Linked DNA regions of Homo sapiens. The protein of the gene in region 3 purifies or fractionates together with the protein of the main gene of each other region. This does not show direct contact. Each region holds a gene or a part of one and is shown on either strand. Other genes may lie near its edges. The genes, in order: EDEM2, PEX1, HPSE2, ANKRD17, FRAS1, NAF1 and ZNF496.

Region 1 (3,500 bases), on a different chromosome or scaffold from region 3:
AGCAATTCTTTTGCTTCAGCCTCTTGAGTAGCTGGGATTACAGGCGCCTGCCACCATGCCCAGCTAATTTTTGTATTTTTTAGTAGAGATGAAGTTTCGCCACGTTGATCAGGCTGGTCTCAAACTCTTGACCTCAAGTGATCTGGCTGCCTCGGCCTCCCAAAGTGCTGGGATTACAGGCATGAGCCACTGTGTCTGGCCTCTCTCCACAGTTTGGTTTCCCCATCTATCAAATGAGAATCATAATTTCTACTTCCCTACCACATCGGGTTTTGGAGAGGCTAAAATGAGGTCAGGAAGGAGAAACTGCTTAGAGAACGTCCAACACTTTTAAAACGAGAGGGATTTGTTTTGTGGCTAAGCTGTGTCCAGGGCTGCAGGTCAAGCCTCCATGTTTTTGTCTAGTGGGGCAGTAACACCAGGCTCAGTAGCATCAACTGTACACTGTGTTCCCTTCAGGGTGTGGTGGAGGCTCTGAGGACTGTTCACACCCAGACACGTCACACTGTGCTTTCCATCACCTCTTGGCCATCTCACTTATTTATCCCTTTTCTTTCTTAATTTTTTTTTTTTTTTTTTTTTCAGACAGGGTCTTGCTCTGTCGCCCAGGCTGGAGTGCAGTGGCGTGATCATGGCTCACTGCAGCCTCTCGAACTTCTGGGCTCAGTTGATTCTCCCACCTCAGCCTCCTGAGTAGCTGGGATTACAGGCAGATGCCACCATGCATGGCTAAATTTTTTTTTGTAGAGATGGGGTTTCACCATGTTGCCCAGGCTGGTCTTGAACTCCCGGGATCAAGTGATCCATCTGCCTTGGACTCCCAAAGTGTTGGGATTACAGGCGTGAGCCACCACACCCGGCCTCTTTATCCTTCTCACATAGCACTTGCCTCTCCTTTGGGGGAGAGCTGAGGATAGCGGGTGAGCTAGGTTCAGGTCTCACTCATGGCTCATGGCTCATGGCTTGAGCGTCTCCTTGCAGACATTGTGTCCTGTGTGATTCATCCCTGGAGGAAACTCTGGAAACTCTGCCTAGCTGCTCCTCCTTTATAATTTAATTATTTTTGGTCATTGGTCATTTTATAAAAAAAGGTCAAGAAACAGGATTTTGTCACTCCTCTTCTTTTTATTACAGCCTGACTTTTTCTGAAATATTGCTTAGAGCCCTTCCTGGTTGTGACTTGCTCTCCCGCTGGTGCCTGCCAGATTGCAAGTTTCTTGTCTGTGGCAGACACAGTTGCTAGACCCTGTGGTTCTTGGAAGTGTCGACACCTTTGTTCACAGTTTGGTGACGCATAGGCTGCTCTGGAGTTGTTTGACCTTTAGGCCCAGAGAGGAAATCTCTGCCTCTGGCTGGTTGTCCAGTTCTCGTCTTGAACCAGAAGGCACTTGGGTGCCACTTGGGTGGGGCGGGCAGAGAACTGGACTGGGGCTGGGGTGGGCACAGGGGAGGCGTTCCCATCCCAGCTCTGTTTGACTCTCTCTGTGTGACCTGTGGCTGAATTACTTCTTTACAGGCATGGTTTTCCCTACCTATAAATCGAGGGTCATACTATATCCGTGGTTTAGTGGTTTATATCCTATTTTGCTTCCCTTTAAAAATAATTTAGCCCCTATACTCTTTATTTAAAGCAGAGATCTTTATTTAAAGTCTATGAATGGCTTTGTTTATTATTATTATTATTTTGAGACAGGGTCTCGCTCTGTCACCCAGGCTGGAGTGCAGTGGTGCAATCTCAGCTCACTGCAGCCCACGCCTCTTGGGTTCAAACGATTCTCGTGCCTCAGTCTCCCAGATAGCCAGAATTACAGGCGTGCACCACCACGCTTGCCTAATTTTTGTATTTTTAGTAGAAATAGGGTTTCACCATGTTGGCCAGGCTGGTCTCGAACTCCTGGCCTCAAGTGATCTGCCTGCCTTGGCCACCCAGAGTGCTGGGATTATAGGCGTGAGCCAAAAGTCTATGAATGGCTTTGAACGGGGCTTACTCTTGTCATTGTGCCACAAGCCCCACCACTTTCTGTGGCTTAAACCCTGCCTGCATCACAATAAGTTACCTGCCTGGGCTTTGAAGGCGTAGTGTAAAATAAATAAAAATAGGTAAAGCTCTCTAGCTAAAGCGAGTGTGTGTGGAGCACAGCCTGCTCCCTGCCCCCTCATGATGAGCAGGAACCCAAGGTTATGCAGAGCAGTGTTTGACAGCATCTGGGCTGGGTGGCTGCTCAGGGCCCTCCAGTTATGACATTTATCTTTCTCTGGCTCAGACTCTAGCAGGATACCCAGGAGAAAGAGGGAAGTGCTGGCTAAGGTCCCAGGCTTTGGGCGTGTATCAGAACTATCCCTATCCCCCTGCTCCTGTCCGGGATCATAATTTGTCGATTGTTCAGCCTTTCAGACCCCCACTGGCATGCCATATGGAACAGTGAACTTACTTCATGGCGTGAACCCAGGAGAGACCCCTGTCACCTGTACGGCAGGGATTGGGACCTTCATTGTTGAATTTGCCACCCTGAGCAGCCTCACTGGTGACCCGGTGTTCGAAGATGTGGCCAGAGTGGCTTTGATGCGCCTCTGGGAGAGCCGGTCAGATATCGGGCTGGTAGGTTCGCTGCTGCCCTTCCTGTTTGAGTCCCTGCTTACGAGGCCCAGGGCTCTGAGCAATAAGTTGCAGTCAAGCCAAGGAAAACTTAGGGTGACCTTGGGAGTGGTCCAGGATTTGGGCTCAGGACACCAAAAATAGACCAAGCCTCCAATTCAAGTTTGGCTTGGAGTGGGGAGGAGAGTGGGAAAGCACGTTTCTGGCAGGCAGCAGGGGCTGCATTCAGCTTTGACCAGTTGAGATTCTCTGATTTCTAGGAAGAGGGTCGTATGTTTCATGCCCCTGACTCACTTGACGGCTTCAGATCATCAGCTCGTCCGGCCTTCATTTTTAGCGTCTATCTGTATTTGCTGTGTTTCTTAGGACACCGGTTCTGAGAGATACTGAGTGGCAGTTGCATGAAAAAATGAGTCTTGGCCAATTAAGTTAGGGGAATATTAGATATAATATCCCCCCCTTTTTTGGAGAGTCAGAATGCACATGAGCAGAATAAAAATCCTCTAGTAAAGAAATCTATTCAACTTTGTTTAATTTAACATTTCCCAAACTTATTTAACACCAGAGCTTCCCTTTATCTTCCAGTACTATTAACCCATGGAAATTGAACACACTTTGGACCAGATGATCTCTAAGGTCAGTTTCAGCTTCTAAATGGGATAATCAATAAGATTAACAGTAATTGAGCCAAAGCCATCCAGGACATAACACTGGATTTAGTCAGAACTGGATTCAAGCCCTGGCCTTGCTACATCGAAACTGTGTGACCCTGAGCAAGTCACTCAACCTCTCTGGTCCTCAGTTACTTCAGCAGTAACGTTAATATATTAATACCAACTTTGCTGAGTCACTCTGACTTAGGAAGACTGCATTTAGGTCTAGGCACATTTTATGCAGTCTGGTG
Region 2 (3,500 bases), on a different chromosome or scaffold from region 3:
GGCCGGAGTGTGGTGGCGATCTCCACTCAATGCAAGCTCTGCCTCCCAGGTTCAAGCGATTCTCTTGCCTCAGCCTCCCGAGTAGCTAGGATACAGGCTCCCACCACCACGCCTGGCTAATTTTTGTAGTTTTAGTAGAGACGAGGTTTCACCATATTGGCCACGCTGGTCTCAAACTCCTGACCTTGTGATCCGCCCACCTCGGCCTCCCAAAGTGCTGGGATTACAGGCGTGAGCCACTGCGCCCGGCTGAGGTAAAATTTAAAGTGTACAATTCAGTCATTTTTAGTATATTTATACTAGTTGTACAGCCATCACCACAATCTAAGTTTAGAACATTTTCATTAGGGGGTGGGAGAAATTTTACTCTGCTTTTTAGATTAAGTTTCTGTCTGGATCTAATCATTTAATCAGACAATCAGGCAGATTGTCTGTGATTAGTTTTGGCCATTCCAGCTTCTTCATTGGTTGTTAACTTTCACAAATAAAGGCTGCTCAAAGATTAGAAATAACATTTAATTTGAATGTAAATGTGCCATAGTTTAAAAGATGGGTTTGGTGAATACAGTCAAATACATACATTTAAAGCTCTAATTCTGAAGATTATGTAAAGAAAAGGAAAGAAATGTAGGGAGAGGATTGAAATGTTCATGGTATAACAATATCTGAACATCCATCTGGTCACACCGTTGGTATTTGAATGTTTTGTCCTCCTCAAATTCATATGTCGAAATCCCAACTCCCAAGGTGATCGTATTAGGAGGTGTGGTCTTTGGGAAGTGATTAGGTCATGAAGGTGAAGCCTTCATGAATGGGATTCGTGCTCTTATAAAAGAGAACTGTGAGAAATAAGTTTCTGTCGTTTGTTAGCCACCCAGTTTAGGATATTTTGATATAGCAGCCTGCATGGACTGAGACAACTATGAGTTATTATGATAGCTTCTGTTATTTCACCTAAATTCATAGAAGCTAATATATCAATATTTATGCTATGAAATATTTCTTAACCAAGCTTTGAATATATTTATATTTTTGTTTATTTTTAAATTTCAGATTCCAGATGACCTGAGGAAGAGACTAAATATAGAAATGCATGCCGTAGTCAGGATAACTCCAGTGGAAGTTACCCCTAAAATTCCAAGATCTCTAAAGTTACAACCTAGAGAGAATTTAGTGAGTTCAAATATATATGTTACATCAAAATTCTTTTACACGTTTTGTAAGATTTCTAGTTGCTTTAGCTAAGTAATAAGAATGTTGTATTCCTTTTTGATACAAATCTTTTTTTATTGTGTTAAACTATATATAACATAAAATATGCCATGTTCGCCATTTTTAAGTGTATAATTCAAAGGCATTAATTACATTCATAATATTGTACAACCATCACCACTATCTATATCCAGAACTTTTCCATCACCCCAAAGAGAAACTTGGTACCCATTAAACAATAATTCCCCGTCCACTCCTTTCCCCAGTCCCTGGTAATCTCTAATGTATATTGTGTCTCTATGAATTTACTTATTCTAGATATTTCATATATAAGTAGAAGTATGCATTTGTCTTATGTATCTGACTTATTTCATTTAACATAATGTTTTCAAGGCTCATCTGTGTTGTATGTATCAGAATGTTATTCCTTTTCATGGCTGAATACTATTCCATTGACTGCATATACCACATTTGTTTATCCATTCATCTGTTGATGGACACTTGGGTTGTTTCCACATTTTTGGCTGCTGTGAATAATGCTACAGTGAACATTGGTGTACAAGTATCTGTTTGAGTTCCTCTTTTCAGCTCCTTTGGGATATACCTAGGAATTATGTTTAACTTTTTGAGAAGCTGAGAAATCTTTAATAAATGATAACACAAATACTTATATTTGCCAATGCAAATATGAATATTTTTGGCTTTTAAGAGATTGATCATTTTGCCACGTGGTTGTAATTAAAAAAAATTGTCCCATGTTGTTTCAGTATTAATATTGTAGCCTAAAAGAGTGCTAGACTGTTTTACTTTTTACTCAGTTAATTCTTTGGATACTGGTAGAGTCAGGAAATGAGATATTGAACTTAAAGATCTTTGCAGGTGGGGTCCAGTGGCTCACACCTGTAATCCTAGCACTTTGGGAAGCTGAGGTGGGAGGATTGCTTGAGGCCAAGAGTTTGAGAATAGCCTGGGCAACATAGCAAGACCCCATCTCTACAAAAAAATTAAAAAAAAAATTAAGCCAGGCGTGGTAGCTCACGCCTGTTATCCCAACACTTCGGGAGGCTGAGATGGGTGGATCACTTGAGGTCAGGAGTTGGAGACCAGCCTGGCCAACATGGTGAAACCCCATCTCTACTAAAAATACCAAAATTATCGGGGCGTGGTGCTAATCCTGTAATCTCAGCTACTCAGGAGGCTGAGGCAGGAGAACCACTTGAACTGAGGAGGTGGAAGTTGCAGTGAGCCTAGATCTCACCACTGCACTCCAGCCTGGGTAACAGAGCGAGACTCTATTTCAAAAAAAGTAAAAATAAAAATTAGACACATGTGGTGGCACATGCCTGTAGTCCTAGCTACTCAGGAGGCTGACTGAAGTGGGAGGATCTCTTGAGCCCAGGAGTTCCACACTGCAGTGAGCTATGATTGTGCCACTGCACTCCAGCCTAGGCAATATCTCAAAAAAAATTTTTTTAAATAGATTATTAGGCCAGACGTGGTGGCTCATGCCAGTAATCCCAGCACTTTGGAAGGCCAAGGCAGGCGGATCACCTGAGGCCAGGAGTTTGAGACCAGCCTGGCCAACATGGTGAAACCCCATGTCTACCAAAAATACAAAAATTAGCTGCAATGTCTATAATCCCAGCTACTTGGGAGCCTGAGGCAAGCGAATCGCTTGAACCCGGGAGGCAGAGGTTGCAGTGAGTGGAGACTGCGCCACTGCACTCCAGCCTGGGCGATACAGCGAGATTCTGTCTCAAAGAAAAAGGAATTTGTTTTCCTGTCTTTATCGTAGAGGGAGGAAAGGGAGAATGGGGTTGGAATGGTTATTGAGTGAGCCACATTATGGTAGATGTATCACTGGGCATAGAGAAAAGGAGCATTTAAAACTTTTCCGCCTAACAGATGTTTCTTCAGGCTACACTGCACTCATTGTGCTAACTGTAATGTCAAATCCCAGACCTGTGCCTATAGAACATGAACATCCTTCATTGGATTTGTTTGGTCAGGCTTACACTTTATTAGGAAGATCAGATGTTAAAATAAGGGTGTTAAAGTTAAGTTCAGATATGAGGATAATTCATTACTATTCCTTTTTCTGGCAGCCTAAAGACATAAGTGAAGAAGACATAAAAACTGTATTTTATTCATGGCTACAGCAGTCTACTACCACCATGCTTCCTTTGGTAATATCAGAGGAAGAATTTATTAAGCTGGAAACTAAAGATGGTGAGTACATTTGTTATTTTGACTTTTTTTTCTATTTAAATAGTTGTACATTTTTAATT
Region 3 (3,500 bases):
CTTACATGTCTGCTTTTAATCTAGAGCCAAATAACTATCGGACCATGCATGGCCGGGCAGTAAATGGCAGCCAGTTGGGAAAGGATTACATCCAGCTGAAGAGCCTGTTGCAGCCCATCCGGATTTATTCCAGAGCCAGCTTATATGGCCCTAATATTGGGCGGCCGAGGAAGAATGTCATCGCCCTCCTAGATGGGTAGGTCAGATTATTTAGCTTTTCTTATGACATTGTTCATTTAATGAATTAATGTATTTGCATTTCTCTTGGTTATTTATTTATTTATTTATTTATTTTGGTCTTAAGAAAAAAGGAGGGACTCTTTCCATAGTGGCTTCACCCACTCTAAGACAGAGATTCTCCATCTTTCTCATCTTTCTAGGCCTTCCATAGTCAACAGGGGGTGGTGGGATGGGGAAGGTATATCACAATCTCTAGGATGGGTTGGAAAGGAAACATTGTTTGAAAAACCACAATTAATATTATGCATCTTATAGCATCATTTTATATTTTTTAAAACAAAAAAAAATTACTCTATACCAGTGTCCTCTTGTAGAAAGTGAAGCTTTACAAAATCTTGGCCAGCAAAGCTGGGTTAAAAAGTTGCAAAACACTACAAATACTGGTAGATTAAAGGTCTTAATAGGCCTATTAGCAGATATTCTAGAGAATTGCTACCACTTTTCCTATTTAGTTTTGACTGAATCTGACAATCATTTTTAAAAATCACGCAAGGCAAGGAAAGATACTGATCAGGAATTTTTCTTTTATGTGTCAGAAAAAAAAAATAGAGATTTATCTCTCTTAATGTGTATGTACTAAATATACAGTGAAATATAACTAGAAACACATAAACATCCCCAGCAACTTGAACTAACAATAACAAAAATGTCAGCACTCTAAATTACCAGCTCTGTATTCCTTTCTAATCCTCCTGGTTATACAGATATAATTTTACATAGTTGTGATCATTGTATATGCATCATTTTGAGTGCTGCATTTTTTACTCATTGCTTCACATGACCCTTTCCTTATTTCTACATAGTTCTCATATTGTCATTCTTAATAGCAATAAAATATACCATTGCATTAGTGCACCAAAGTCTGCCTAAGCATTCCCTCACTGTTGGGCATTGGACTGTTTCCAAATTTTGCTTGTAATACATAGCACAGCTATAAACATTTTTATACAAATCGGTTATTTATTTCTTTTGAATTACATCCTTGGGCTATATTCCAAAAAGTAGGGTTTCTTGGTCAAAGTATATGATCATTTTTATGGCTTTTATATTTGTTGCCAAATTTTTTTCAGAACAATTTCATCAGGTTTCAGGGCAGCAATGTATTAGTATATCTTTTTCCCTAATATCTATAGCAATAAATGTTGTCAATTTTATTAATTTACCCTATTTTAATTAATGCAAGATCATGTTGCATGGTTGTTTTAACTTGAATTCTGTTAACTATGAAAATAACTCAGCATTTTCAAATCCTTATGTTTCCTCTTATCCCCCAAATTTGGTTAGTAACACAACCAAATTCTTATGTTTCCTCTTATCCCCCAAATTTGGTTAGTAATGCAATAACCATTTTGCCTGAGACCCAGACATGGAAGCCGTTTTAGATCAGTCTTTTCCTTTGTTCACACACTCAATTCGTTATTAAGTACTGTAATTTCTGATTTCTTATTATCCCTCATATCCCATTTTCTTTTCATTTTTATTTTAAACCTTATTTTATTTTCAACCTTACTGTTTTTAATTCTAAGTGATTTCTTGGTATCTAGCTAGCCTCAAACTCTAATAATCTTTCCATATAGATTCCTGAGTAGTTATTTTTTATTGTTGTTTTTTAAACACAGAGTCTCACTCTGTCAGCCAGGCTGGAGTGCAGTGGCATGATCTCGGCTCACTGCAACCTCCATCTCCTGGGTTCAAGCAATTCTCCTGCCTCAACCTCCCGAGTAGCTGGGATTACAGGTGTGTGCCACCATGCCTGGCTAATTTTTGTATTTTCAGTAGAGATGGGGTTTCGCCATGTTGGTCAGGCTGGTGTTGAGCTCCTGACCTCAGGTAATCCACCCGTCTCGGCCTCCCAAAGTGCTAGGATTACAGAATAGTTTTTTTTCTTCTTCTTTTTTTTTTTTTTTTTTTAATGCAACATCTGGTCAAGTCACTTCTGCTTGAAATCCAAACCCTTTCAGATGCACTCATGACGTTTAGGGTCTGCGCCTGCCTAAATTTGCAGCTAATAAGCAGTGATACCCCCTTGCCCTCTAATTACATCTAACTACATCAAAGTACAGTAAATTTTTAATGTAAATTTTGGAAGATACCCTACTCTTTTATACCTTTACATCTTTTTATTTTGTTTCATTTTGTTAAGAATACCAGCCTCTCCTCTTGTTTTTCTCCTTTCTCTAGATCTTCTCTGACATGTTGAGGCAGGGTTTCTTAGGGCCTCCTCTGTCCTTGCATGGCACTGTATTTTTCTGCTATAGCACTTATCAAATTGATGATAACATTTGTTTATATATCTGCCAGCCATGATAAACCACAGAGTAGGGTCAGGACCCCATTTGTTTTATTCATTCTATATCTTCAGAATCTAGGAACATAGTAAGTGTGTTATAAATGCTTGTTGAATGAGTAGTATCTGTCTTATTCAACAACTGATTTTAAGGTCATCTAACGTAAAAACAGTATGCATAATTGTAATTATGAAGCATTGAAAAGCATTGTATAAATAATGATTTGAATGGCTTATGTTGATTTTATAAATCATGACTAACTTCAGTTTTATGAAACTATACCAATGTCTAAGTTTTTAAAAAATTTTATTGATACATAAAAATCGTACGTATTTGTTGTACATATTTATGACAATTTTTAAATTATTTCTTTGTGTTGGGAACATTCCAAATCTCTTCTCACTATTTGGAATATACAATAAGCCACTGTTAACTATTGTCACACTACTGTGCTATTGAACACTAGAACTTATTCCTTCTATCTAACTGTGTTTTTGTACCCATTAACCAACCTCTCTTTATCCTCCCTCTCTCCTTCCCTTCCTAGCCTCTGGTTACCACCAATTCTCTACCTCCGTGAGGTCCACTTTTTCATTTGCTCCTACATGTGCATGAGAACATACAATATTTGTCTTTTTGTGCCTGGCTTGTTTCACTTAATATAATGTCTTCCAGTTCCATCCGTGTTGCTGAAAATGACAGAATTTCACTCTTTTTATGGCTGAATAGTATTCCATGTGTATATATACTACATTTTCTTTATCCATTCATCCTTTAATGGACACAGGTTGATTCCATATCTTGACTATTGTGAATATTGCTGAAATAAACATTGAGGTGTGCATAATATTTTTGATATACTGACTTCCTCTATTTTGGATACATACCCATAGGTGGGATTGCTGGGTAAGCTTTTTTATTGAGGTAGTTACAGAACTAAACAGGACTGTCTTTCCAGTTAGGATATGAACT
Region 4 (3,500 bases), on a different chromosome or scaffold from region 3:
TGAATATAGTAGGCATATGTATAATCTAATGTTAAAATAAGTTATATAATGGGTAATAATTTTTAGATTTCTTAGATAAGTTACACATTCCCAGGATGAGGTGAACTTTCAAATATCAATTTTAAGGCTATTGATTATATTGGGAAAAATGAACAATGACTTGGATGTTAATGTGTGTGTTTTCCTTTTTTAAGGGTATGCCTTTTTCTGTGTATGGGAATGCAATGATTCCTCCAGTAGCACCTATCCCTGATGGTGCTGGAGGACCCATATTTAATGGCCCTCATGCTGCAGACCCTTCTTGGAACTCACTGATAAAGATGGTTTCCAGCTCCACGGAAAATAATGGCCCTCAAACGGTGAGGCTGATCATTCAGTGAATAAACAGTTGTTTTGTGTTTAAGAAATGCAAAGACAAATAGGATTCAGGTAACTCATGATAGCAAGAGAGTTTGGTGAATATGGGCAGTTGAGGAAATCTAATATAGCTGCAATATAGCAGAGGGCTGTGGGCAGTGGTACCAAAGGCAGGTTTGGGGCTAAAATTATGAAAGGTATTGTATATTCTACTGGGTAGCAGATAATAAATGAAAGATTTTAAGTTGCAAAGTGACTGTCATATGATTTTATACATTAAAGTTTACTAGTGGTGTGAAAAGACCATCTAAAGGTTATTTATTAAAGGTACTATAAATAACTCTGAGAATTCACATAAATGGTTGTATATTTTAGTTTAGTGTATGTTTAATATCTTTGATTTATTTTTCTTCCACAACCGTGAATCTATAAATGCTCAGGTAATGATTTTTTTTTTAAAGGTTGTAAATCAGATTCTGTTTGAGGGATAAGAGGTAGGAAAATAATAGAAAAAAGGTTTTTATCATTTTTTTCCATTAGTTCCTAGTATATTGCAAATTGAAGAGTACCTCCTTAGTTTTTTAAAAGTTTTATTTTAATAAAATATATGCTAGATATATATTTTGTAAAATGCATGCTCTATATTCATAGGTGTGGACTGGACCCTGGGCACCTCACATGAACAGTGTGCATATGAACCAGCTTGGCTGATGAGGATCAGCTTGTTAGCCTGCAGATTCCTTTTCATTTGGAGGAAATCACAAGTGGCCGAAAAAAAAAATTATGCTCCCAAATCATTCTACTGATGTGCTTGACTGAAGTGTGTAGGCTTTTTGCAGAAGATCTTACTAACTGACCTATTTTCTGTGAACATTTGTGACTGCCCATTCCCCATCATCATCCGTTTTACCTTAGTTAGCATTTTTCTTATCATTTTTCTTTTTTTCTTTCCCTCTTCCCCTTTGGACATAACTTTCTGTTGAAGCTGTTCTTTGGCTGGTTGGTTTTAGTACTGTAAACTGCTTCTGAGCAAACACGGAAATTTAGCAAAATTATGTAAACTTGATCCTGAAGTTTTAGAATGGCAAATAAATGTACAATTGTTTACATAACAGAAAAGGCTAAGCAGAAAGTAAATTTCAATATGTCAGTATAGAGGCTCTACTTTATGTAGACTTAAATTAATGTGAGATATGTACCTTCATATTCAGAAATCTGGATGTTTCCTTCATACATTAAACTATTAATAAGCATAACTTTTCTACTGGTGTAATTTAAGTATAAAGTAAAATAATGGGCATTATCATTGGATGTTTCCCCACATTGGCTTTTAAAATACCCATCTTGCTTTCTTTTTGGTTTATTTGTAGCAAGGCACATATAGAAGAAGAAATTTCTGGCTTTTCCATGTTGTTTTATTACCTTTTCTCACTTTTAAAACTAATACAGACTTATCTCCTCACTCCTTTTTCTCTCCTTACCTTTACCACTAATACCAGTAAAATTATCTTTCTGATAGTGAAAAGGTTCTGTCAAGATTTTCACTGTAATGGCTGCTACAGAGATGGACCATCTTCATCATCACCAGTGGTTTCTTCTAATTATAAAATGTTTAAACTTTCTGAGAATTTAAAAAGCCACCACTGTTCCCAGTCAGCATATACAAGCTCTTAATATTCTGTTTATTAAATAATTCAATGTACTATTTTATATTGGATGATATTGATTCTTAACATTGGCTTTTCAGTCATCAACAGTCAACATAAAAATTTCAATTTTCAGTAATTTAGTGGAAAATATCTTATTTCTTTTTTCAATTTTAAAGGCTTCCTGCTTTTTTACCCTTGTATATTATCAGTGAAAAGGATCAACAGTTAATTTGAGCCAAGTAATAAAAGAAATTCTGCATTTGTCACGAAGACAATTTATGGTAGACAGATAAATACACAGATTACAGTGTAAAGTCTCCATTTAACCTGTTTATAAAAGATACAAGGCCACACTAAACTACTCAGTGGGATTTATATATTCCATCCACTTGAAACAATAAACAGTAATGTATCCAAGAAGATTATGTGTCCTACCCTGTCTCATGGAAAAATTAATTATATGGTTGAAATGTAAAAGAAAGTAAGCATAAAAATCGAGTAATGTATATATCAATTTGTCTTCTTTTTTTTTAATTAGACATAAAATTTCACACTGGTAAAACATAAAAACTAACTAAAATTCATATAAATCACCTAGAGTTGATGATATTAACATGGTTCCTTGGTTGTCAAGTAAATCAAATGATTTCTTCCATCTGAGTAAAGAGTAAAGCCTGAGTAAAGAGTAAAAAGATGACTTCTCAAACATATCCAGAAATTTGTAAACAGTACACTCATATCTTTTAGTTTAAGAAGTGGTCTTAAAATATATAAATTTGTTTTTCCACCTATGTTTAATATGCCCAAATTTAAAGGGAGAGCTAAAAGACAGCCTACAAATAAATATAGCTATGAAATAAAATTATAGCACTTTACTAAAAAAGGGATGTAATAATGTTATTTAACGAAGTATTTTATATATGACTTGCCACTATTCTATACATAAAATTTTTTTTCTTAATTCTTTCCTGTGTTAACTAGGGTTATTTTCTATTTAAGGTAATCCTGCTGGAGAACAGATGCTATCCAATATTTATTACAACACATGAGTTGTGTTGTTTCACAATACTGAATTTCTTAGGTGAGGTATTTTATTTAAAAAGGAGGGGGAAAACTCCTATATTTTCTTGACTTCAAACCTGTGGGGCCAGGGGATATAGATTGAAATGCTCCGTATTTAGTCTTGGGGATCAGGCTTGTTTAGTACAATACCATGGTTTTAGAAGTCTGTACTAGGAACATTTTTAAAATACATTTTTTATATTTCAGATGTAATGCAGTGCACTTTTATTTGAACAATAAAAAAACCCATAACTTTTTGAGACCATGAAGGTCTTTTATTTTTTAATTTTGAAAATATGTGGTATGTGTATATGCAGACTACATCATTGTTTTAAGAAATGATTTAACTCTTGGACATTACACTTGGGTTAGTTCACACCTTAAATCCCCAAGTAGTTAATATCTCAATTATTGTATAATCAGTTTATACCA
Region 5 (3,500 bases), on a different chromosome or scaffold from region 3:
AATTTTTGCAGATTTGTGTGTCCCCAGACATTTATGTCTGTTTTTTGTACATATTTCAGTTATCTCCGTTTACACAAAGTATAGTCCAGGCTCATTTCCTGCAGTTTCAGTTTTGGGCAAGTCCATAGTCGTGGTTTCACTTGAAGATTTTTAATTTCTTTCTTTTTAAAAAAAAAAAAAAACAAAGTAAAACCAGAATAAGTCCCTATAAGTTCACAATTGTGTACATATAAAATAATTTCTCTGTTTTGTACTGGGCTAAATTGATTCACATTTTAATGGCAAAGGGTGTAGTCAAAATATCAAGTTAAAATTAGTCTACCTTGTTTATAATGTAATTTTCTATGAATTTAAATTCCATTATTCAGTACACTGGAATTCTATGTCAATTTTAATTGTGTAAGTAATATGGTGATACTAATGATAATATCTTATGTTTGTTTGGTACTTTAAAATACACTTAACACCTTCATATACAAGACCTCCTTTAGTCCTCCCAAGAAGCGTATGAGGTAGGAATATTATGACTTTTCTTTAGTTGATGAGGAATCTGATGTTTGTAAAGCTTCATAACCTAATACAGCTTGGAAGTAACAGAACCAGATCTGAGAACAGAACTTCATACTCCAAGGCCAGAGTTCTTCCAGAAAGGGAACTGAGTCATCAAATGATGACTGTTGCTGCCCCAAGTGAGATAATAAGACAGGCTATAAAGAGTTACTACATGTTTTTCTCCAGTCACCAATGGTAGGAGAGATTTTGCTCCTTCATGTCCTTATACAATAAAGCAGCCCTCCTGTACAGGTTAAGAATGGGAAGAGGTGGCTGGGTGTTCCAGGTGATGCAGCAGGGAACCAGGGCTGGGAGAACCAGCTATTTCAGTCAGTGCTCTGCCCACTGGACTTGGATGCTCTTTTCCTATGATGCCCTGGGGAAGCAGAGCAGGGGAAGCTGAGGCACAGCTTAACTTCTTGTTGGTTCCTTTGTGACAGGTCCAGTTTGATGAGCGAGAGGACACCAAGTCCTGCACCATTGTCATCAACGATGATGACGTGTTTGAAAATGTTGAGAGTTTCACTGTGGAGCTCAGCATGCCAGCTTATGCCCTGTTAGGGGAATTCACCCAGGCGAAGGTCATTATCAACGATACCGAGGATGAACCCACATTAGAGTTTGACAAGAAGATCTACTGGGTTAACGAGAGCGCTGGTTTTCTGTTTGCACCTATTGAAAGAAAAGGTCTGTTGGTTCCACAGGTGACAAAGAGCTATAATAATTGCTAACATTTATTGAGTTCCTATTATGTGCTAAGCACTCATCTCATGCATTATCTTAACTCACATGTGTACTTTCCACTTATTAACTCATTTGGTTCCCACAACAACCCTGATGATGATTCTATCCATAGTGACTACCATCAGAAAGCCTCTTTTCTTAGTTCAAGTTGTTAGAGCTCCCATTTACTCTTAAATTGGACTAGAAGACTGGTTATATTTAGCCTTCTAAATTATTCATGAATCAGTATTCTTAATCAATCACCCAATCCATAAAATATTTAGTAACCTTGGTCAAGGAGGGAAGTTACAGTTCATAAGGACTGGCTTTCCATCTTATTCTTGGAAGACAGAAATATGCTGAAAATTTCCCTATGTGACAGTCATATGTAGAGCTCAGATGAGAAATAAACTATGTGTAAGAAATAAAGGGCAATTCTTTTTTTGTTTTATTTTTGACTGATACATAGTAATTGTGCATGTTGATAAAAGGGCAATTCTTGAGGAGTTGGAAATAAAAATAAACATCATATGGAATTTTGATTGTGCAAGATTGAGACTTTAAAACACATGGAAATTGAACCCCCATTCAAAGGCACAACAAGACTGTAAATGATGATTTTGGGTTTCTTTCTTGAATCTGCTGACTGGGTATTAGTGTAACAAATACTGTAGATAGCAAAAACCCTTGGTAATGCCACTTGGAAAACAAGCAAGCCTCATTGATTGCTCTGGGCCACCAAGCCAGGCCCAGAACAGGCTGTCACCAAGGGAAGTGGCAGCCCTAATAAGTAAAGTCATTTGTATACAGTGGCAGATTTTATTTTGTTTTGTCTTTCTCTTTTTAAATAAGCCTGTTTCTTTCTGGGAATTAAAGTATAGAAGTTTATTCAGAAAGGCAGTGAACTGTGCTTATAGCACTACCTTCAGGACACAATTACTTTCCTACTTAAAGTACCAAATATGTGTCATATCTTTCCACCTGCTGTGGTCTTAGATGGTGGGCAATGAGTCTTGCAAATTAACAGAGCACAAAATTCACAGAATAGGAAATCCATTTTGAGTTGTTTGATGAAGTATCTGGGGTATATTAAATCCTCAAGTGGTTTATACCACAGGCTCAAAGAAACTGCAATTCAGGAAGGTTTTATGTCAGAGTTTGAACAGAAATAGTGATGGACTGTTTGGGAGGGACCAAGCTCATTAACTTACCAGAGGTTTTAAAATCTGAGAAGCACTCATTCAAATGCTTTGGTTTTTTGCCATTTGTATTTCAGGAGATGCAAGCAGCATTGTATCTGCAATTTGCTACACAGTCCCTAAGTCAGCTATGGGAAGTAGCCTCTATGCTCTAGAATCAGGCTCTGATTTTAAATCTAGAGGGATGTCTGCCGCGAGTCGTGTGATATTCGGGCCTGGTGTGACCATGTCCACCTGTGATGTCATGCTTATTGATGACAGCGAGTATGAAGAGGAAGAAGAGTTTGAGATTGCCTTGGCAGATGCCTCTGACAATGCCCGCATTGGAAGGGTGGCGACAGCCAAGGTGCTCATTAGTGGTCCCAACGATGCCTCGACTGTGTCCCTGGGCAACACGGCTTTCACTGTCAGTGAGGACGCAGGTAATGGAGAGTGTCTCTGAGTTTCCTTCACCTGTCTCCTGATTCCTTTCTTGAGCAGTTTTCTCCTTAGGTTTCAGAATATCCGGGAGACATTGAGAATGCCATTCCTCAGGGATACCACTGTTGGTCTAAGGCACTATATAATGCTTGGCCAAGACCAAGCATGGAATTTATTATAGAGAGTTCCATCCACTTTTCTTACTCTGATTTGTTTTAGTAAATTTTTGTGGGTACATAGTAAGTGTATATATTTATGGATTATATGATATATTTTGATACAGGCATGTAATATATAATAATCACATCAGGATAAATGGGGTGTTCATCACCTCACCTCAAGCATTTATCCTTTGTGTTATGTACAATCCAATTATACTCTTTTAGTTATTTTAAAATGTGCAATTAAATTATTTTGACTATAGTCACCCTGTTGTGCTAGGGAATACTAGGTCTTCTTTCTAAGTATTTTGTGTACCCATTAACCATGCCCACTTCCCCCCTCCACCACCATTTCCCACCCCCACTACTCTTCCCATCCTCTGGTAACCATCCTTCTACAACATGGATGGAAGTGGAGGTCCTTATGCTAAGTGAAATAAGCCAG
Region 6 (3,500 bases), on a different chromosome or scaffold from region 3:
CTCCATAGGAGGCACCCATATCCCTTCTTGGTCATTCCACCCAACTTAGGGGATTCTGGAACTTCCATACTACCTGATTCAAGATAAAAGCAAAGGAAGTAATAGATTGTAAGGAGAGTATAAGAAACTGAATTTGGAAAAGTAGCACCTGAGACCTTTACTATGAGGTGGGCAAGCAGCTTTCTTTATATCTTTAAAACTAGTATATATTCTGTAGGTGTTCATATAAAAATTTAATCCAACTGATGCTTTATACTTGCCCTGTCATTGAGAAGTGGTTTTCTAGGTATCCTTTCACTTGGCTCTAGGTGATAATACTCACCATTTTTTACTCAAAGTCATTATATTTTTGCTACAAGATCTCCAAGGATTCCTATCACACACAGAGGTTAACACACACTGTAACAACAACGTGGTACAGCTATAATGTAGGATCTGCTGGGAAAAATAACTGACAAGCAGAGAAGATATAGAGTGCATGCAGTTCCCCAAATTCCATCCCAGCGTAGGCTGGGCTTAAATGTTCTGTGTGCACCATGGCAAAAGTTTCAGCGGCGTAGAAGGCCTGTTTGAGCCAGCAGGCTGGAGGTGCACAGACAATACAGCAAAAGGGAGAATGAGCTGTACTCTCCTCCCCCTCTCCACACACATACCATGTCACAAACTTACTAAGTTATCTAGAGGGGGCTAGGTAACTCCCAGTTTTTCTATTATCTAGGAGGGGACTAGGTAAATCCTAGTTTCTCTAAGTAACAATAAATATATCAAGGATCTCCAGGCCTAGGAACAATGCTGGCAGGCTGTGCCTGTGAAGGGCCAAGGTCTGCATGCTGCCACCTGGGAACAGCCTTCAAACAATGTCTCTCTAGGTGAGCCAGCTTTGGGCTAAACTGCCAAAGGAGAAAGGAAATGAGGAAATGAACCTTTACAACTATTCAACATTGTCTTTTATCAATCACTTTGTGCTTTTTTCAATTCCCATCAACAAAAATGAAGAAAATACAGACGAATAGAGTATTCTAATCTATTAGTTAGGCAAACTGATCATTTCAATCACTGTGTGTATTACTGTATCATAAGTTACCTTGAAATATGTCATGAGAACTGAGGGGGTGGGGAACAACACTCCATCAATATAATACAGAGTCCTCTAGAAAATCATCACATCCTACCAAACAAGACAGTAATATAATCGTTTAAAAAGGAATCAGTAAAAATTTCCTACCCACTGATATATGAGAAGGAAACAGATTTCACTAGTTCATCAAGGGAACTAGCAATTCTTAGGATTAAAGGGCAAAGGTAGGAATAAAAATCTGAGACTGTCCTCCCTTAATCAGTGGGGAAGGCAAAGGGAGGTGGAAGGGAAATGAACCTGGGCTGTAAACTCATCCATTTCAGCTTTGTGACTTTTTAGCAAGGTTTCTCAAGTTTTAAAATAGAGGTAATTTTACTTCCTTGCAGGGTTTCAGTGAACTTAAAAAGATAACATAAATATCACTGTAGCTGATTACTATCGTGTTACTGAAGAAAAGAGGGAAAAGATGTTCGATGGCTTGCTACTGAAGGTAAAACTAATTTAGTATTTAGATAAGACATGCTAATAATCTAAAAGGTACTCAGTTTCATATTCTGGTTATTGGTTTGTTTAACAAATACTTTCTAATCTCTACTCCCACTACTATTTTGGAGAATCATTTCAAGGCACTTAGATTTATAATCAAGTATTTTTTAAAAACTTGTCACAAAGTCTTTCAAAAGCATTTATAAAGCATTCTATGTAAAATTTAGAAATAGATTTAATTTTTGCCAACAGGCTTATGCCATATAACTAAAGTTAGAGGTGTAAATGTTATATTTTATCTGACTCCTTTCAAATCTAAATGACAGCTGAATATTAATATTAGTCACATTTACAGGTCTAGAAATTCAAATGTAGTGGGAAATACAAAAAAAATGTCTGTTTAGAGGTTTTAATTTAGCAAAGTGTTGAGTATTTTCAGATTAAAATTGTCTAAGTTAGGTACTAAGAAAAAAAGACAACTGTCATGAAAATCACAAATAGCTCCTTTCTTATTTGTTTGTATTCAACTCAATACACATTTACTTGGCACAAATAATTTACAAAGAACTGTACTAGATACAATGGGGAATATCAAGGTGAATAAAACTGTCCCTATTGCCAGGAAATAAATACTTACTTAGTATTTACATTCTTGATTTTAGAATGTTTATGTCTTCTGCCAACCAGTCAGAATTGCCTAGTTGCTGAGTAAAGTGCACAGTTTTCTACATTAAGGTGGACATGCAGGGTTGTTCCATTAGAAAGATGTTAAAAGGGACCAAATCTTATAGTAATTACTTGAATGCACATATTTGTAATTCCCCAGGATGTGCCTACAGTGACAATTCATTGCTGTCAGTGAAATATTTTTCCACTTGGAAAAGATTCCACACCGAGCTTCCACCTGAGGAAGTCAAAGTCTGAAAAGTCTGAGAGCCACTATTCAAAGGAGCTCACAAAACAAAAATGCTTAAGAGCTACTATACTATGGGAAGTCTTCTTCACTCAGCTGAGTATCTGGACGGTAGGAAACGATGTGTTATGCATTACGTAGACTCACTGCCTAGCAAGTTATCTGACAAACACTAGGAAAGAATTCTATATATGTGTATTTAATAACTCATGTGGCAAAGAGTAATAATCAGTATTAAACCAATTTACAGACAGATATGAAGTACTAAAGGAAATCAAGAACGTACTGAAATTAGAGAGCTCTAGATTGTCCATCAATTAAAATAAATAAACTCTTCTGAGAACTGATGGGGAAAGTCAGAAAAAAACAATAAATAAATAGAATAATTTGTAAGATTTGAAATGTTTTACAAACCTTTCCTGCTGCTTGTCGATCACTTTTAAAAATTACAGTCTCCTCATTAACTGGAGGTAGGTTAGTCATAGATTCAATTATTACTGAAAAATAAAATAGATTACTTCAAGATTTACTTATAAGAGAATGTAGAATTTTAATGAAAATCTAAGCTTTAATTCCAACATAATTTAAAAAAAAATTGAAGGTGGGATTATTACCTCATTAACCATTTTCTCTTCAGTAAACAAAGTCTACTTATTACCAAATAGCACTGGGAAATGTTTTTATACCTATTTTTAATACAAAAAGCTATAATTCTAAGGGAAAAAAATTAAAATGCAAATCCCACAGAAAATCTGAATCATCCATTAAAGATTCAACAAATTCAAGCTATGTACATATTCTCAAGTAATTTTTACCAAAAATAGTGTAATCACGTTTAGTTGTAAAACTGTTTTAGAAGAAATTAGTCTTCTTTCTCACTCTTAAAAATTCTTTTCTACAAAGCACTGTTTAGTTACTGGTATATGAAAAAGTTAAATAAAAGGCTTCACAAAAGCATCTTCCTATGAACAGAAGAAGTAAAAGTGCTAGAGCTCACAGTAATTTTTATCATTACATGAAAAT
Region 7 (3,500 bases), on a different chromosome or scaffold from region 3:
AGCAGGTCATTTCCATGGGATTTTAAGGCTCAGCAATAACCTCTGGCTCAGTTCTCTGTTCTCCAGGCCCAGCAGGCTACTGGCCCTGCTCTTTGGAACTCAGAAGGAAATGACTTCACCTCCTGAGCCTGTACTCTCTGGTCCCATGATGACAGTGGCAGTCCTGTAACCTCTGAGCCACCTTTGGAGTCATTCTTCCCTTTTCTTGAAGGATAGTACATATTCATAGCCAGATAGATCTATCGGCCAGTTTGTAGAATCCCAGAAGTCCTAGCCTTCTTTTATTTCATCCCATCTCTTTTCCTTTCAGTTCCAGCTGGCAGTGTTTCTGCTGGTATATAATACTCAGAAACCCTGCCCTCCATGCAGTCCACAGGGTTGCAGGCCGTCAGACGAGGGTGTCCTCCATAGACCTTCCTGGATAACCTCATCTCTGTTCCTGGCTTCTGTTGAGATGGTTGATTGGATCCGTGAATCATACCCAGAATCTCTTTAACAAATGATGAGCCAGCCACACTCTTGGTGTCTCTCCAGTGCACGCTTTCTTATTTTTTGCCGTATGGATAGACAGAATTTTCCAAATCTTGAAGTCATGGTTCCTTTTTGCTACAACAATTCCTTCTTCAGTTTATCTCTCTCATCTCACGTTTCACTATAAGCGGCAAAAAACTAGTCTTTGCCTTTGACACTTTGCTTCGATACCTCCTCAGCTCAGTATCCGAGTTCCTTACTTACAATTTCTGTTTCCACAGAACAGTTGAATATGGTTTGGCCAAATTCTTTGCCACTTTATAATTGGAGGATCTCCTTTTCTCCAATTTCCTATAACGTCCGTATTTCTACCAGCCACTTCCTCAAGGCTTTTTAAACATGCACTTCAGAACTCTCCTGGCCTCTCCCCATGACCTAGTTCTAAAATCACTTCGACAGTTTTTGGTCTTTGTTTTAGCTGCACCCTACTTCCTGGTGCCAAAGTCTATGTTAGTCTACTGTGGCTACCATAACAAGGTACCACAGGCTGGGTGACTTAAACAACAGAAACTTACTTTCTTACAATTCCAGAAGCAACAAGTCCAGAATCAAGGCTTCAGCAGAGCTGGTGTCTTCCAAGGCCTTTCTCGTCTTGGAGACGGCTCCCATCTTGCTGTGTCCTCACAGGGTCCTTCCCTCTGTTGAAGTCTGCCTCCAGTCTCCTCCTCTTAGAAGACCAGTGATTTTGGATTGGCCCCACCATCTGACTTCATTTTGACTTAATTACTTCTTGAAAGACCCTATCTCCAAGTAATCACATTCTGAGGCTCTATGGGTTAGGGCTTCATCATGTAAATTTTCAGGGGGACACAATTTCGCCCATAACATGCACTGTCTGCTCTCATAATTCCATCTCCTCGCCCAGTTAACAAGTAAGAGATCTTAGCGGTCCACCTTGTCACTTTGTTTTCTTCTTCCACCCAAGTCCATTAACAGAAGTCAACTGCTGATCAAGTACCTTGTCATCGGCAGCCTGGTAAAAGTTACACCTTGCTCTTGTCTCCACCCCATGAGGTCCACAAAGTACATCATACACATGACCTCACCTGCCCCACCAGCAGCTTAGAGCAACGGGCTGCCACTGTCATTCTCACCTTGTAGACGAGATGACCCAAGCTCAGAGAAGCTGTCTGGCTGGAACGAGGTTCCTGCAGCTCGAAAACCAAGAGTCGAGATAAGCGTCAAACATAGCCTCTCGGCGGGCGCAGTGGCTCACACCTGTAATCCCAGCACTTTGGGAGGCTGAGGCAGGTGGATCACCTGAGATGGGTGGCTCGCTTGAGCCCAGGAGTTTGAGACCAGCCTGGGCAACATAATGTGACCCCATCTGTACAAAAAATTAAAAACACATGCACACACACAAACACAATCTCTGTCTTCATCTGATGATTTCCCTCCTATACTACGTGGGTTCTTGGCAGACTCAGTACCCACTCCCAGACTCATGTTCCCCCGACCCCCTTGTGACTGAGGGACAAATGCCCCCTCCGCTTCCACCATTGCCCTTTATCTCTCTGCTCTCCATAGCCTCTGTGTCTTCCTGCCCTGCTTCTGTTTGTCCAACTTCTCCTGTCCTGAGCTGCTCTGACTAGCCAGGGCTCTCCTCCCCACAGTCATGAAGCCCAGACTAACCATGTTCCTACTCTTATCTGGGAGGGCCTGGTTCACTCCCCCCAAGTTCTAGATTTGAGTTCTACATTTCACAGCAGTGAGGAAACAGGCCACCTGTATGGTGGGCTCTGCTCCATAAGCCGGGACCTCAGGCCGGGCTCTGCACTGTCCACCCAGCCCCGCCCCGTGGTTCCACCTTCCCAACATCACAGACTCAGGATGCAGGAAGTCCAGAGCAGCTTTATCCATCACCACCTGTGGCCTCAGAAATGCGGTGCTACTGGGAGCCGGGGAGCTGTGGGGGACCCAGGACTCTGGGCAGTCTGGGACTGTTGAGCAGCCTAGCAAGGCTGAGTAGCATTTCAGCCCTCCTTCCTGGCACAGATCACCTTAGTTTATGTGTAAACATGGCAACCAATAGGTCATCGGGTTGCGTCCAGGAGCAAATAGGAATGTGCATGTCAAGTCTAGCACAGTCCCTGGAGCATGCAAGTGCCCAGCACATGATATGTGTAGGTTGTAGAGTCTTCCTCTCTCAAGTCCTTTCACTATCCTGATAGAGCTTTCCCCCATGCCTTGTTAAGTGCATGATCTGTAAATGGTCAAGGCTTTACCCAGATAAATACAGACTCCTAGAGCTTGGGGGGATGGGGTGGTCTCCGTGGGTAGAGAACAAAAGGGTTGGGGGTGGAGATAAGGGAAAATGGCTGGGAAGAGGGAGAGCAAGGTGCCCAGCATGCTCTGGACACAGCGGGGCCCATGCTGAAGATTTCTTCCTCACAGGCTACACCAGTGGCCCCTGCAGGGCTGGCCAGGCCGCCCCGGTCACCGAGGACCATTGTAAAAACACGGGTTTGTAAACTCCAAGCTGAGTGTTCCTCCGCCGCGGTCATAGGGGCTGGGATGTGGCCTGTGCAGCGTCGCTGACCTGCATGTTGCCTTCCTGTAGCTGGCGGCAACCCGCGATCTCTAGAGAACAGCCTGGATGAAGAAGTGACCATCGAGATCGTTCTCTCCAGCTCTGGGGACGAGGACTCCCAGCATGGCCCGTACTGCACAGAAGAGCTGGGGAGCCCCACAGAGAAGCAGCGCAGCCTCCCCGCCTCCCACCGGAGCAGCACCGAGGCCGGAGGCGAGGTGCAGACCTCCAAGAAGTCCTACGTGTGTCCGAACTGTGGGAAAATCTTCCGCTGGAGGGTCAACTTCATCCGGCATCTGCGGAGCCGCAGGGAGCAGGAGAAGCCGCACGAGTGCTCGGTGTGCGGGGAGCTGTTCAGCGACAGCGAGGACCTGGATGGGCACCTAGAGAGCCACGAGGCCCAGAAGCCTTACCGGTGTGGTGCCTGCGGGAAGAGCTT

Evidence for each region.
Region 1: the proteins of HPSE2 (region 3) and EDEM2 purify together in Homo sapiens (affinity purification with mass spectrometry; one large-scale study listed by BioGRID and IntAct). This does not show direct contact.
Region 2: the proteins of HPSE2 (region 3) and PEX1 purify together in Homo sapiens (affinity purification with mass spectrometry; one large-scale study listed by BioGRID and IntAct). This does not show direct contact.
Region 4: the proteins of HPSE2 (region 3) and ANKRD17 purify together in Homo sapiens (affinity purification with mass spectrometry; one large-scale study listed by BioGRID and IntAct). This does not show direct contact.
Region 5: the proteins of HPSE2 (region 3) and FRAS1 purify together in Homo sapiens (affinity purification with mass spectrometry; one large-scale study listed by BioGRID and IntAct). This does not show direct contact.
Region 6: the proteins of HPSE2 (region 3) and NAF1 purify together in Homo sapiens (affinity purification with mass spectrometry; one large-scale study listed by BioGRID and IntAct). This does not show direct contact.
Region 7: the proteins of HPSE2 (region 3) and ZNF496 purify together in Homo sapiens (affinity purification with mass spectrometry; one large-scale study listed by BioGRID and IntAct). This does not show direct contact.

The regions. Positions count from the first base shown.
Region 1 is NC_000020.11:35,133,837-35,137,336, reverse strand, and holds part of EDEM2 (ER degradation-enhancing alpha-mannosidase-like protein 2 isoform 1 precursor), read left to right. Parts: intron 1-2,387; coding exon 2,388-2,599; intron 2,600-3,500. Other genes in the region: MMP24-AS1-EDEM2 (ER degradation-enhancing alpha-mannosidase-like protein 2), read left to right, coding at 2,388-2,599. UniProt on the Homo sapiens protein: Involved in the endoplasmic reticulum-associated degradation (ERAD) pathway that targets misfolded glycoproteins for degradation in an N-glycan-dependent manner.
Region 2 is NC_000007.14:92,511,521-92,515,020, reverse strand, and holds part of PEX1 (peroxisomal ATPase PEX1), read left to right. Parts: intron 1-1,053; coding exon 1,054-1,173; intron 1,174-3,317; coding exon 3,318-3,441; intron 3,442-3,500. UniProt on the Homo sapiens protein: Component of the PEX1-PEX6 AAA ATPase complex, a protein dislocase complex that mediates the ATP-dependent extraction of the PEX5 receptor from peroxisomal membranes, an essential step for PEX5 recycling.
Region 3 is NC_000010.11:98,718,353-98,721,852, reverse strand, and holds part of HPSE2 (inactive heparanase-2 isoform 1 precursor), read left to right. Parts: intron 1-24; coding exon 25-196; intron 197-3,500. UniProt on the Homo sapiens protein: Binds heparin and heparan sulfate with high affinity, but lacks heparanase activity. Inhibits HPSE, possibly by competing for its substrates (in vitro).
Region 4 is NC_000004.12:73,073,799-73,077,298, reverse strand, and holds part of ANKRD17 (ankyrin repeat domain-containing protein 17), read left to right. Parts: intron 1-194; coding exon 195-359; intron 360-1,008; coding exon 1,009-1,068; 3' UTR 1,069-3,500.
Region 5 is NC_000004.12:78,476,823-78,480,322, forward strand, and holds part of FRAS1 (extracellular matrix organizing protein FRAS1 isoform 1 precursor), read left to right. Parts: intron 1-992; coding exon 993-1,239; intron 1,240-2,551; coding exon 2,552-2,896; intron 2,897-3,500. UniProt on the Homo sapiens protein: Involved in extracellular matrix organization. Required for the regulation of epidermal-basement membrane adhesion responsible for proper organogenesis during embryonic development. Involved in brain organization and function.
Region 6 is NC_000004.12:163,142,891-163,146,390, forward strand, and holds part of NAF1 (H/ACA ribonucleoprotein complex non-core subunit NAF1), read right to left. Parts: intron 2,975-3,500; coding exon 2,892-2,974; intron 1-2,891. UniProt on the Homo sapiens protein: RNA-binding protein required for the maturation of box H/ACA snoRNPs complex and ribosome biogenesis.
Region 7 is NC_000001.11:247,300,868-247,304,367, reverse strand, and holds part of ZNF496 (zinc finger protein 496), read left to right. Parts: intron 1-3,091; coding exon 3,092-3,500. UniProt on the Homo sapiens protein: DNA-binding transcription factor that can both act as an activator and a repressor.